Linked DNA regions of Homo sapiens. The protein of the gene in region 2 binds, or shares a complex with, the protein of the main gene of each other region. Links are inferred from orthologs where the notes say so. Each region holds a gene or a part of one and is shown on either strand. Other genes may lie near its edges.

Region 1 (7,855 bases), on a different chromosome or scaffold from region 2:
TCCAACCTACGTTCACTGTACCCCAAACATGTGCCTCCCCTTAAAGAGAACAATTATCACTGGCTGACTCTGCACTGACTGGTCTCACAAGAGGTCTTATCAAGTGAAGGTCGTTTAGTTTCCAGCCTGAGAAGGAGCTATCCATCTCAATGTGTGCATTTAACATAATGTATTGTTGATAGTAAATACTAGAACTTGGGCTCAAAGAGCTGGATCAAATTTAAGTCAAATTGTAGTACTGCATATTCCAGCCAGTTTATAGTAAAAGGTAAACTGGTTGATAAAATTGAATTTACCATGTTAATTTTATTTTCCTCCTAGGGAATGGCATCTTTGTGAAATGGGCAATTTTAATTCCTGAAACTCTAAGAGCAGCGTGCACACTTACAGCTAATATGTAGCAGAACCTGGATTTAGTGGACTTCTGTTGACTCCAAATTTTTCATGCGTCTTTTACTTCCACTCTACAATTGTTTTTGCTTTCTCTGGTACGAAAGTGGGTGAAAGTAACATCACAGAATAATACTGTTGAATGGAAATGTCTGTGAAACAAGCTGCCAGTATATTTTCTAGCCTATGGCTTTTAAAACTTGCTCCTTTACATGTTTCAGAGCTGCTCAGTCCTACTCAAAAAGTTTGACCTTTAGCTAGGATGATGACTTTTCTTCCAGCTGAATCAAAGACATCTGACTACATGACAAAAAGCCTGCTGCCAGCCATGGGGAAAATATTTAGAGAAGAGATTATTTCCTGCACCTGATTTTCCTCTCAATCAGCAAGCTGAGAGCTTTCAAATAGTAGTTTCACCTTCATGAGCCTATCATTTTCTTACCTAAGCCCAAAGATGTCTATTTTTGCCTCTTAGTCTCAAAGTAAAAGTTTCAAAGTAAAAACAAAAAAGTTATTCTGACTGCTGTCAAAGATAAACCCAGCCAGACATTCGTTAAAGTAGTGAAAACAGATTTTATTCAGTAAACCACTGATAGTAGGGGAAAGGGCTGAGCTCAATTCTCATTTGTGCAGAGGTGACTGGCCATTTTAAAAAAGAGAGTAAGGGAGTGGCAGGGAGCCAGCCGCAAGAAGAGTCAGAGAAGAGAAACCTTAAAGTGTTGGTCAGTGTAAACGCCATACTACCTGGCAATTAGTAAGTTACTATTCTATCCTCTCACACAGACTGGGAGACAAAGCCCCTATCCCTCCTGATGATTACGTTTCAAAGAAATGGCTCTCAAAGATACTTGAAGGGACACTTCAGAGTTGGAAGAGATACATATTAACAATTGTAAGCCTGTTTCGTAAATGCTCTAAAAAGGGAACGAGAGGGGTCTATCAATTAGGTGTTGACTAGAACAAACAGTAAATTCTCCCCCTAGCTTTGAGCTTTTTCAGGCAGGCATTTTAATGGCGGGGGCGGCGGGGGGCGGCCTGGGGTCACCCTAGGGGCAGGCCTTACATTGCTAGAAGATAAACTAGTGTCGATGTCTTTCAGTGCAGAAGTTTTGACTGAGTCATCACGTCCTAGGAGTTCTGCAGTTGTCACTACCTCGGGATAGTCCTCATCTTTATTTCCCCACAACTAGCTTGCTGCCTACTTAGTGCAAACAGCTATTAGAAAGTCAACAGGTGAAGGTAAAAAATTTAAAAACTTCATTTCATTAAGAGCTATTTAGTCACCGGGCAGAAAGAAATCTGGGCTTCAGGTTTGAATATAACTTTTATTTTAAGCATCCTCAGATTCTCTCAAAGGACAGAATGAGGAAAAACAACAAAACACCCCCACAGAGATAGGACCACAATAAAAGGGTCTAAATGTCAGGGTCAAAACTGATTTTCTGCTTCCTCACTGAAAAGAAAAAGGGAAAGCCAGGCGCGGTGGCTCCCATCTATAATCTCAGCCGCCAGGGAGGCTGAGGCCGGAGGATCACTTGAGCCCAGGGGTTTGAGGCTGCTGTGAGCTCTGATCATACCACTGCACCCCAGCCTGGGAGACCCTGTCTCTTATTAAAACAAACAAACAACAAACTAAATAAAAATAAACAGGATGAGGAGGAGAAAGGGAGCAAGTTGTTAGGCACATTTGAGAAAACGTCAAAATTTTCCTTACAAACTAGCCAAACACCTACAGTGATATGCCATTTTCCTGACAAAGAATTCAGGCCCCAAAAGAAAGGCAGCCCACAACTGAGCGTATTCCCAAGCATGAGTTCTTTCAAGAAATATTTTTTTGTGGACCTTCTATGGATTAAGACACTCTTTCATCCTGGAGAGAGCCCACAGTCTAGTGGGAGAGAAAGACACATAAACAAATATCTACTTTACAGCGTGATGACCGGTATTAACACAGGTCTGAACAAGGTGCAGCGGTGAGAGAGCAAAAGCAGTGCCTCAGAAACACAGGGATATCCTCTCACAGCAGGTGACATTTGGCGGGATCTTGGAAAATGAGTAAGGGGATCCAAGATCGAATCCGAGGGCTATGCTAGGGCGATTCGATTCCATCCCCACTTTGGCTTAGGGACCTCTTCTATATCCTCAGTAAACTTCCCTTCTCAGAGCATTTATTAAAACCTCCTTGGCCTTTCCAGACGAATGTCTGGCTACGTAAACTGTGAGCTCTGTAGGGCAGAGGTGGCGACGGTTCAGTTATATAAATCCAGTGCCCGGCTCAATAAGGGTATGTGGAATGGATGAATCCATTAATGAATAAAGACAGCAGACCTCCACAAAAGCCCGCCGGCCGGGCGCCTTTTCCTACCGGCTGGGATCGCTTCGTCCAGCCTGATTCACTCAGGAGGAATGCGCGAAGAGGCCGTCAGGAAGCCTCGCCCTAGACTCAAGAAAAGAACCTGGGAAAAGCTCAGGATCCTCCCAGGAAACAAGGACCCTCACTGTGGCCCAGGGTCTGAAGGGACCGCGCTCCGGGTTCCTAAACCTGTGAAAGCGGCTTATCCCATTCCTTTACTTACATTCGCGAGGGAAAGATTTCAATTCGGTCTTTGCCCGACATTCTGACGATAACTTTTCGGCTCGGGTCCCCGGCCGGGCAACCGAGGCTGCAATAGCTCCAGAACTGGCCTCCACAGTGTCTTCCTCTACGGGAGTCAGCTGGTTGTGTCACTTGACCCCTCTTGTTGCTAAGAGGCAGCAGGGACACCCATTTTCACTTCCGCTTCCGGTTGTCACAGGCGACGAAGGGGGAGGACAGAACAGAGGCGTTGCCCGGATGTCGAGGCGCGCGCACCGCGGAACCACCCCTCAATTCCGGTTCGCCTCCCAACCCCTCCCCATCCAGCTTCCCTGCGGCTGCGCAATACGCGGCACGCGCCAGGCCAAAGACTAGGAGCGAAGCGTGCACGCCTTGTCTTTCTCCACCTTTCGTCTTTGGTCACAGCGCCATCTCATGGTTAGCTGAAACTTTGAAAGAGGATTCATTCTTCAGAGGCAAGGAATCGGAGTCCTATGTCTTTCTCGCGCCTTGAAGGTTACTTAGCTAAAGCTAAGATAGCGAGAAACAGTACTTTTCAGGTCCTTCCATGATCTACATTCGTCCTTGTTCTCGGAGGACCCAGACTCTATGGTTAATGATGAAGAGGGGCCTCTATTCGTTCAGCGCTTGCGCATGCGAGGAGGTTCCGCATGCGCGGTGGAGTGAGCGAAGCGCACGCTGAGGAGGATCGGCGGCCGGTGAGGGGGAAGCAAGTCTGGTCTCTGTGATTGAAGAAGTCGGCTCTGGGCTCCAGTGCGGGAATCACACACATACCTCAGGTGACTAATCCCAAGCTCGGTTTCTCCAGGAACTCACTTTGGTTTGTGTCCAGTGACATGGGTGTTCGAGAGCGGGTAGGCCCCGGGCTAATACCTCCCTTTCCCGTCCCTGCGCGGGAAGTGGCTGGACAGCACCGCCACCACCCGCGCTGTCGTGGGCCTCCTCGCCGGCTCCGTGTAGGTCATCCTGTGTTCCAGAGGCATCGTTGTTCGAGCAGAGGAATCTCGTGAAGGAAAGTGGGCCGAGTGGATTGTACAGCCTCTACAATATGCCGAAAGTGAGAATGCCATGACGATGGGGCGGTCTCAGGAGAACGCTGTGACACCGTAACTCTTAACCCCGGCTCAGGACGCTGAGCACTTTGCTTTTTCCAGGCTTGAGAATTCCATCTTTTCTTCCGCCCCAACAGCTCTACCAAAAATTTCCCCTGCGTCTCAGTGGAAACCAAACTGGCCTCTTACCTGAGAAACCTGTGGGACGGGCACCGTGTTGGAAAGAGCGGGGTCCGAGTAGTTTTTCATCTGATAATTGAATGAGTCACCCCTTGAACCAAAACTAAATGAGACTTGAGTTTATTACTGTTACTATCAGTTTGTCGTATTTTGGCGACAATGAGAATAGAACTGTGTTAAGCATATGTTAGGTTAACTATGTTAGTTAAGCATAACTAAAACCTAAGATAAGGATATATTTTCGGGTTAAATACACAGTCATGCTGAGGTCTCTTTATCCTCAAAACTTAGGCTTTTTAAATTTTTATTAAGCAAAAAACATGGTTTCTTCGAGAAAAAGTATAGCAGAGAAGTCTTTATTTCCCCTCAATTGAGTTGTTATTCAAGGAACAATCTCTGTCAATAGTTTGGGGGTGACTTGTACAGAACTTTGCTACCTATTCTTAGTTCATCTGGTGCCAAAAGATGTAGTTGTCTCATGCACAGTAATGTTTGTAGAGATTCGGTGATAACTTTCTTTTTCAACTATAATGATGAAATAAAAGCTTTACTTATGTAGCACTCCTATACCAAGAACTAGCATTCAGAGAGCATTCCTAATACGTGTTAGATCCAAATTAGAATTATCACGAGAGTTGTCCCCATCACATAATATATTTTGGAAAGGAATGTGAACTTCTATATCCATTATAGCAGTTTGACCATGCACTGTTTTGAGAAAGAAGTCCTACCTACCATTTGTCATGCAAAATAACTGACTATGCAGGGTATTTGAAATTAGCCTGGAGTTTGGTTGATATATTTTGAAAGGTGGCTGATACTTTTTACATCAGAACACATAAGAGTATTATAGCATGTTGTGATATTGAGGTTCTGTGGGTTAAAGACATTCTGGATTTGATGTCGGATTACTTGAGTTTAGCTCCTACGCTAGTACTTATTAAGCATTTGTTCTTAAGGAAGTATTATAATTTAGTATTTCTGTTCCACCTTTCCTGTTCATTGCTTCACTGTGCCCTTTCATAGTACTTTGTATTGTAATTATTTGCTTGCTAGTTTGTTTCCCACTCTATACTTAATTACTTAGGTAAGAGTCTTTTTTTTTTTTCTTTTTTCTTTTTTCTTTTTTTTTTTGAGACAGAGTCTCTGTTGCCCAGGCTGGAGTGTAGTGGCACGATCTCAGCTCACTGTAGCCTCTGCCCCTGGGTTCAAGGGATTCTCCTGCCTCAGCCACTATAGTAGTGGGATTACAGGTGCCTGCCACCACACCCAGCTAATTTTGGTATTTTTAGTAGAAATGGGGTTTCACCATGTTGACCAGGCTGGCCTCGAACTCCTGGTTTCAAGTGATCCACCCGCCTCGGCCTCCCAAAGTGCTGGGATTACAGGTGTGAGCCACTGCGCCTGGCCTGGTAAGAGTCTTTCTTGTTGTATCATTAGTGCTTAGTACATAGTAGCTACTGAAAAAAAAATTAACAAATTATTATATTACAAAATGGAAATACCTTCTTTTTCTTTCAATATTTTATGTTTGACTAGCACATAATGGTTTTCAAAATGTTTTTACGTATACATGTGATACCCTCAGTAAACCTGTGATGTACATGGCACAGATGAGAAACTACAGTTCAAAGGATGTTATCTTTCCCAAGCAGCCACTTCTAGTAAGTAGCAGAGCAAGGACTGGAACACAAGGCTAGAGTTGTTCCCCGAGTTTACTATGTTAATTGCCTGATTTGACACTTCTTGAGGACCAAATAAAATAAGAATGCTGTGAAAAAGATAAAGAGGTGAAGTCACCTAGTGTGACTTCGATATTGCGGAATGATTTTTTTAAGTTAAAAAAAAAATTTAAGTTATTAGCATTTCATTAGGCAATATGTTCAAAAATTGTCAACCAATATGCAGGTTTTTGTGGTATGGATTCTTTTTGTACTTAACTACTATCTATCTTTACTATGAATAACATACCATCAACAGTATTCCTTTACTTACCCTTTATGTTGCAAAGAGACTTGTGCCTCCTGAAGAAATAGTATTCATAGTCATATCCCTTCAGGATTCTCTTACATGATTGCCCATGTTTTTTAACCATCAAATTAAGCCTTGCTTCCCCTAAAAGCATCACCTTTACTGTTTGGAGAAGCTTGGTAAGTAAATGTGGTTTTCACTGGTCAAATGTCTTGCAACTGTTCCATACATTTCTGTAACATAGTTTATTTTTATGCCCAATTTGAAACTTTTTAGCTCTCAAATTTGAGAGCTTTACATACACATATTCAACAACAGTTTCCCCACCCCCACCCTCGAAAAGCCCTGTTTAAAAACGAAACAAACAGTCAGCTGTTTCTTGGTGGGTAAGGCCATTGAATGTCTACTTCTCTTTATTTGCTAAATCCCTATTTTGTAGGGATTTTGTATTCCCTACAAAGAAATACATCTCTGCTACTGTCATTAATATGCTGCTCTTTGTTGTCAAACAGATGAGTACTAATAGTTTGCACTTATTGGTGTTATGTACTCTGGCACTGAATATATATTAATGTTGCTTTTTAAGTAAAATGTTTCTAATTATAATATATTTATGAATAGTTTTGAGAGAATATAGTCTTACTGATAAGAGGACAGACTCTGGATCCAGACTTCATGGATTCAAATCCTGACTCATCACCTGTTAGCAGTATGTGAAAGAACAAGTAACTTAACCTGTGCTTCAGTTTTTTAATCTATAAAATGGGGAGAACTAGGGAGAAAGTTGTACCACAAGGAGATAGGCAATGGCCAGATCATATAGGATTCTGTAGGTAGTGGAAAGATACATAAGTCAGTGGGAAGCCACTGAGAAGATATAGGCAGGTGCCAATTAATAAGTTATTATATGAATTTTCACAAGGTTTTCTTAGGCCTTTAAGTTCTGTTACTACCTACGTTTTGAGCAGTGACAACAGTGAAGGTTAACAGAAAAACATGAAAATCATCAGCCATGATTAGTTTGAGAGCTTCCTTTTTTAAATATGCTTCTACCCAGGCTATGATTTCAGGCTTGTGGATCATAAAAGGAGTAGTGCTGAAAGTAGGTTGGGTGGATCAAAGGGAATAATTGTAAATATCTTTAATGCTTGGAGGTTAAGAGAAACTTGAACTTTGTAGTAATGGAGATTAAAGCTATTCTCAAGATTAGGTATACCTATTCAATAAAAGAAAGGAATATTTGGGAGTATTGGGGATAAGAGAAGCTAGACATTGTGAATTCAAGGAAAAAGAATTATGAGAGGAGGATGCATTTTAGTTTATTTTGTGATTAAAATTTTTTTAGTTTTTGTTGTTTTGACATGTGACACTGTAATTTTGGCTATAATAAATGACAGAATGTATCATTTGGTATATTGGTTAGGGTTTAGGTAGAAAATTTTTTCCTTTATATAGTGAGTGGTAGCGTATACAATGTTTGCTCACTTCGGCAAAGAGTAGCTTTAGTTTTCTGATTAGTTATAATAGTGATGCTTCCCATCATTTGATATGCCTTAAAGTAGTATTTTACTCTTGAGGTATTCCTTTAATCCTTAGGTCTTGGAGTACTTTATAGATGGTCATTATTTTTTATGATTCCTCTGAAACTAAAGGCAGAGAATCACCC
Region 2 (7,280 bases):
GGGAGAGAAGGGAAGAGGAATGAATCGTACTAAATGAAAAAGTGGCTCTGCGTGATCTATAAGTGGACTAGCACTAGACTAAAAGTCAGAGGATCTTCATTCAGCTCTGCCACTTTAGTTATATGTCCTTTTACGTAATGCTGGGGAGGGGTTCAGGTTTGATACTTAGGAACCTTCCTATGACATAAACCCTAGGTAATCTATGTGAAAATATCTTAAAAACTAAGTGGTGTCTGTAATCCCAGTGCTTTGGGAGGCCAAGGCGGGCAGATCACAACGTCAGGAGATCGAGACCATCCTGGCTAACACGGTGAAACCCTGTCTTTACTTAAAAAAATTAAAAAAATTAGCCAGGCATGGCGGCACGCGCCTGTAGTGCCAGCTACTCAGGAGGCTGAGGCAGGAGAATCACTTGAACCCGACAGGTGGAGGTTGCAGTGAGCCAAGATCACACCACTGCGCTCCAGCCTGGGCAACAGAGTGAGACTCCATCTCAAAAAAAACAAAAACAAAAACAAAAAAAACTAAGTGGTGTGTAAAATGGTAAAGCAGTGTAGCTCAGACTTTACATGAATTGATTTCCCAGTCATAGAGACCTAGTTGAAGTTCTGGCCCTACCACTTAATAACTGTGTGACTTTGGACAGTGTACTTAAGTAAGGTTAAGTTTTCTCACGTTTAAATCTATAGATGGTGCTATTAAGTTAGATCATGAATGTAAAATGCCTAGAACATATTTTGTAAAAAAAATTTTTAATTAATTTTACTGATAACTACTTTGATTTTATATACTGAATTTCTAAAGACTTAAGACAACCCACAGAATTGACTGATGTCCCTGTGAGCAGCAGGTTTGGGGCATGAAGAAGAGAGTAGAATTTGAAAAGAAGCTATTACCCAAAAAATGGGGGAACAAGAAAAGTGTACTTGTAGCAAAGATTCTAAAACAGATTTATTAATTTTATCTGAAAAATATCAAGATAAAGTCCCTTATTTGGGCAACTGCAGTGTCTTAATATTTTCTATATAAAGATTTTCCAAAGCTTGTAATCATTAATGTATGGAATAAATTTAAGGAGGCAGTTCTTCAATTTTGAAGTTTTTATTCCTGCAATGGATTATAGAAGTATATTAAAATTGTACAGATTGTAGAGCAGGGACTTTTGAGTTAATGCTTATAAGCTTAAAAATTTTGTCTTTTTAAAAAAATTAAGTGTTTTTATATCTTATTTTTATCCTTATATGAAATAGACAAAGAAATGTAGAGAACATAATGGAGACATAAACTAGAGTAAAATTCTTCCCTTCTTAAATTCATGATTCACAAGGGTTAGTAGTTTTGCAATGGAAAATATCAGCAAATTAAACAGTAAGTATAGCTATCATGAGTTTATGAATCACTTTATTCCTGAAAAAAAAAATTACTCATTTGTCTTAAGGAAAGATTTTATTAAGTTTATTGACTTTTCCTTAATGTTGATTGTCTATTATAACAAATGGATTTATTGATTTAGGAATGAATTTATTCTTTATACTAAGTAACTTTATTTTAAATAAATGAAATGTGAGCAATAAAAATGTTTTCCATATAATTTCTGAAGAGAATATTAGTTTTGCTATTCTCTTTTTTCCCTATGGTGAAATGATAGCGACTTTGGTTTTTATAAGTGTATTCATTTATATTTAGTATATACATATTATGTATATACTATATATAGAGTAAATATTTGTAGTATATAAAGTACGCAATGTGTGTGTATGTATATATAAAGACAGCTGAAGTGGTTGTGTATCTTCGTAGTAACATATTTATTTTTACCTGAAACTACTGAAGTGATCTTTAGAATAATGATTTATTTACATTTGAAACTCCTCTTTCTGTATATTTCTTTGTAGTTAGCTCTAGTTAATAAATTTACAACTGTGATTAGCTGTTTTTAAAAATTAATGGTATATCATAAGTATTTTCAGATTTAAATTTTAGAAGGAAACACTTTCTTATATCTTAAGGTTTTAAAAATCACTATTATTTTTGGTATTATTATGACTAACAACAAAAATTTCAGTTTTGGATCTTAATGCTATCTGTTGAAACTGTTCTCTTGGTAAGCCTTTAAAAAAATTTTATCTGCAACATGCCACATTTTGTTTCTTTTCTGAAAAATAATTAAGCTTATTTCACTGAAAATAAAATGGGTGGTATATGATATGATATAGAAGAGTTTCAGATGTGCTTGAGCAATGAAAAGCAACCAGACTTTATAAGTTTTTAGTTCTTAGTTTAATTTTTTTAATGTTTAAAGGTACAATAGAGAAGACTAATTGAATTGGAAAATACCTTTAAAATTGAAAAAAGAGCATATGTATAATAATAATAGTATATACATATGGAAAAAGTTGTAAGGAAATGCATCAAAATAAGTAATTATCTCTAGATTGATGCATTAAAGAAAAAATTAAAATTTATTACTATACCTTCTGTATATTTGAATTCATAATGTCAGTAGGCATTGCAAAATATTTCTTAATTTGATATGGAAAATTAAGGCACCTAAATAATTCTTTCATCTTAACTACTTGGATATCTTAAGTGAAAATGTTTTGTCTCATCCAGGTAGCTGAGTAAGTTATTTAATTTTATAGGTGTGTAAATATATTTTTAATTTTAAGTATATAAGTGCAGCAGAATTTTAAAAAGCAGAGTAAATCTCAGTATATAAGATAATTTACCACATTTCAAAGGGATAATTCAATCCAATGGTGAAAAAGGGCACATATATATCATAAATGTTAACTGATACAACTTGCTCATCTAGAAGAAAATATAATTGATCCAATACATTGCAACAGATGCAAAAACTGATTTCAGATGGATTAGAGGCTTAAATGTAAACAATAAAATATTTAAGATATTAATCTCCTAAATTTCCTTTATACAAACAATCCAGATGTAGTTTTTTAAACCAAGATAGGAAACCTAAAAGTCATAAAAGTATGGATAGACACATGAGACTGCATGGAAACGAAGGATTCTTTAGTGGCAAAAATAAAGGACCAAAGACAAAATCAGGCGGAAAAAAAGGCTTGAGATATATGTAACAGATGAGTTAACCATTGAAAGAACTCTTTCCAATTAAGAAAAAGTTCACCCAGTAAAAATATGGATAAAACATGTCACCAGAAGTTCACAGAAGAGAAATCCAAACATTCAACAAACAGTAAAGGATGTGTAACCTTACTAGTAATCAATATACTAACAATGAAATATTATTTCTCTGACAAGCAAAAATTAAGTGGTAAACCTACTGCTAGCAGGGATATGTGGAGAAGGATTATCTCATAAAATGCTAGCGGAGATGTGAAGTGTTAGAGTTTTTCCTAGTAAACAATCAAGCAACATCAGTTAATACTGAGAATACATGTATTTTCCACCCATCAGTCTAACTCCATGTAATCTTTTCCTTAGAAATAAAAGCACCAGTAAGAGTTTACAGGAGTGTTAGCTGCAACAGTGTTTCAATTTTCAATGTTAGTAGTGGCAAAAAACGTGGAAACAAAGGGAATGCCTGTTAATAGGGGTATTGTTATGTAAATTATGGCCGAGGCATTTTATGGAATGTTGTGAAGTGATTAAATGGTAGGAGTTAAATCTACTGGTGATTAGAAAGGATTTCCAAGTACATTCTGAAAGGATTTCTATCATGTGTCTTTTTTTTTTTTTTTTTCCTGAGACAGGATCTTGCTCTGTTACCCAGATTGGAGTGTACTGGTGCTGTCTTGGCTCACTGCAACTTCCTCCTCTTAGGTTTAAGCTATCCTCCCGCCTCAGCCTCCAGAGTAGCTGGGGCTACAGGTGTGCACCACCACACCTGGCTAATTTTTTGTATATTTGGTAGAGACGGGGTTTCACCTTATTGCCCAGGCCATCATGTATCTTAAGAAAAAAAAATACAAAGTACAGAGAAACATTTGTAATGATAACTCATTTTTTATAAAACCAGTTGAAAAACACCATGAGTTTTGTATATTTTTACCTGGTTGTCACCGTTGGAAAGAGGAAATAAGCAGAAAAGGAAAGAGACAGAATATCCATAGTAACATATTTATATAAAACTACATGTTTGTACATGTCTGTGTATATGATGGATTATGGGAAACAATGGGCACTAAGATGATTTACTTTCTTCCTTACACTTTACATTATATGTTTTTATTTTTACAGTGGACATGAAGTGTTTCTGTAATTAGGAAAAACAGGCTGGGCATGGTGGCTCACGCCTGTAATCCCAGCACTTTGGGAGGCTGAGGCAGGTAGATCGCTTGAGCCCGGTGTTGGAGACCATCCTGGGCAACATGGCAAGACCCCCCTCTACCAGTAAAAACTAAAAATTAAAAAAATTATTTGGGCACGATGGCATGCACCTGTAGTCCCAGCTACTCAAGAGGCTGAGGTGGGAGGATCACTTGATCCCGGGGCATTCAAGGTTTCAGTGAACTGCGAATGTGCCACTGCACTCCAGCCTGGGCGTCAGAGCGACACCCTGTCTCAAAAGTAAGAAAAAAAAAAAGAAAAGAAAAATGTACCAAAAAATGATAGGGACTACTAGATAGGATTACAAATTTGGCATGTTATTTTTGGTATGGATAGTCAGTGCTATCGACACGCTTTCTGCCTTAGAGTGTAGAGCACATTGCACAAGTGTGGGATCTGTCACCTGACTTAATCATATGACAGAATCATAAGAAAAGTCCCTATTTGGGTTTTGGCATATAAACTGGATTACAAGATTAACTTGCCTTAAGAAAACTTTAAACAAGAACTTCTTTAAAGAAGCAAAATAAAAAGTACTTATAATTGTTTAATACTTGATTTCTGTCCTTTTAAAAGTATCTCCGTAGAATACATCATTCAAAGCCTAGACAGAAAATAGCAGATGCTTTAGAGTTGGATTTGTTGCATACTTAAAGTAGCTGTATTTTTTTCTCACATTGGTATTACTTCCCCTTTTCATTACCAGTTTTATTAATTGCATATATGTGCTTTAATGTAAGCTGTCCAAAGTTTTTTTTACAAGAGTTGGGATATATGTAAATAAAAATAATTTTAGAGTAGTATTAATATAACAAAGAGATGAAGGAAACCAGACTGTGTGAGTCAAATCCTGGCTCTGCTTCCTAGTGGTGTGACTTTGGAGGAGTTACTTGTGTCTTTTTGCATTGCATTTTTCTCAACTTTAAAATAAGGATAATAAGAGTATTTAACTTCATTGGATGTTGTGAATAATAGAAGCGATTGGAATAATAACTAGCACATAAGGACCGTATATATATTTGCCAGCTGGGTGCAGTGGCTCACACCTGTAATCCCAGCACTTTGGGAGGCCGATGCAGGCGGATTGCTTGAGCCCAGGAATTGAAGGGCAACATGGCAAAACCATGTCTGTACAAAAAAAAAAAAAAAAAAAATTAGCCAGGCGTGGTGGCACACACATCTAGTTCCCGCTATTCGGGAGGCTGAGGTGGGAGGATTGCTTGAGCCTGGGAGGCAGAGGTTGCAGTGAGCTGAGATCGTGCCACTGCAGACCCTGGGTGACAGAGCCAGACCCTGTCTCAGAAAAATATATATGTAATAATAATATGTGCTATTATTTGCTCAGTCAATTAGGTGCAATATATAATAGTTTTACTTGGCTCAGTTGTTTTAACATTCATTTACTCATCCAACAATATTTTTAATTCAGTTGAATGGGTAATACATGTACAAATATGGTAAAATTTATATATTCATACAAGTGTGTTTTCTCTCCCCTCATCCTTATTCTTTTCTTCCCCCATATATTTATCCACAAATGGTAGCACCTCTTCGTATTATTCTGGACCTTACATTTTTCGCTTGAGTATTACGTTGGAGATCTTTTCACATTGATACAGTTAAAACTGCCTCATTCTTTTTAATGATAGTTTAGTATTCAATTGTATTAATATACCCTCATCATCATATGTAACATTTATTGAGAGCTTACTCCTGATCCAAATGCTTTCTTAATACTTTAGTTTTATTAACTCATGGAAGCCTCATAACAACCTATGAGATAGGCACTATTTTTCTATATTTAACAAATGAGGAAAACTAGGCACGGGATGATTAAATGTCCAACAGTCACACAGTTTATAAGTGGTAGGGCTCAGGATTAGAGCCCAGGGAGTCACTTTCCAGAGATTGCTGCCATAATACCGCTAAACATGTAGCCTGTCATAGTATTACAAGGTATTTAACCAGCCTCCATATTAATGGACATTCCAATCTTTTGCTTAAGAAACAGTGCTATAGTTAATATTTTGTTAATAGAACATTTTGTACATCTACAATAAATTCCTAGAAATGGACTAGCCATGTCAAAGGTAAGTACAATTTGAATTTTGGTGGGCACTGCCAAATTGCTCTCCAATTTAGGGATGTTCAGAAGTTCACCTTTGTCCTTAGTAATTTGCCAAAATCTGCCATTTAGCTTGGGTCTTTGGAAGGTGTGCTTTTAACATTTCTAGCATCCCTGAATTGTGTGTGATCTACCATCATGTAATAGCTTAAGTTACTATCATATGGAATTAATGTAACAATGTCAGTATGAGAGGTGTGACCTTTGGACTTACTACTTTCAAATAACAGTAAGTATTTTAGATATAACTTGAAATACTCCTTAATGTGATTTATACATTGAAATTCTATCAATCGAAGTTTGAATAGATATTGTTGAAAAAGTAAAATGCTGTAATTGTTAATAATTGTGAAGTTGCTGATTTTATGTACCAAAGCAATTATGTAAGAGTGTTCAAATAGTTAAATAGTGAATCAGATTGCATTTGAACATTAAGAGTGTGGTAGCTAGCTAAATAGAGGAATAGCTGGGTCCTTTCTTGTGAAAAGTGAGTTTTTGATAATCCGTGAGTCCTAGTCGTAGGTAATGCAAAATGAGGTAGCGAGGAGCTTTATTTAGATGAGTTATAAAATCCACAAATTATTTTGAATATAACACACTTGGTTTCAGTGCCCAATATTTCACTTGTTCAAGAAAGGAAAAAGTATCTCTATGAATCTAAGAAGCAGATTGACTGACACCAAACTCTTCAATGTGATCCAAAATAGACACTTAAAATACAGAATCTTCTCAGGTCCCAACGTAGTATACCTGCAGTGCCTGAATATGGCCCTGTAGTACCTGCTTATTGTACAGTGGGGCGTGTGTGTGTGTTTTAAATATCACCTCATTCTCCCTAAGGTAC

The links.
Region 1: the proteins of ATP6V1A (region 2) and ATP6V1D are in contact, whole or in part, in a cryo-EM structure (PDB 9B8P), measured with the Rattus norvegicus proteins. The link is inferred for Homo sapiens from one-to-one orthologs. Residues at the interface, in NP_001101788.1 of Rattus norvegicus: Ala366, Met368, Pro369, Ala370, Asp371, Ser372, Asp416, Ser418, Asp436, Lys438, Glu491, Gln494, Leu495, Val496; in NP_955418.1 of Rattus norvegicus: Lys4, Asp5, Arg6, Arg167, Ala171, Val175, Ile176, Arg179, Tyr186, Glu190, Arg194, Glu197, Tyr200, Arg201, Lys204, Ile205, Lys208.

What each region holds. Positions count from the first base shown.
Region 1 is NC_000014.9:67,356,692-67,364,546, forward strand, and holds the start of ATP6V1D (V-type proton ATPase subunit D), read right to left. Parts: upstream 3,114-7,855; 5' UTR 3,008-3,113; coding exon 2,967-3,007; intron 1-2,966. UniProt on the Homo sapiens protein: Subunit of the V1 complex of vacuolar(H+)-ATPase (V-ATPase), a multisubunit enzyme composed of a peripheral complex (V1) that hydrolyzes ATP and a membrane integral complex (V0) that translocates protons.
Region 2 is NC_000003.12:113,749,987-113,757,266, forward strand, and holds part of ATP6V1A (V-type proton ATPase catalytic subunit A), read left to right. Parts: intron 1-7,280. UniProt on the Homo sapiens protein: Catalytic subunit of the V1 complex of vacuolar(H+)-ATPase (V-ATPase), a multisubunit enzyme composed of a peripheral complex (V1) that hydrolyzes ATP and a membrane integral complex (V0) that translocates protons.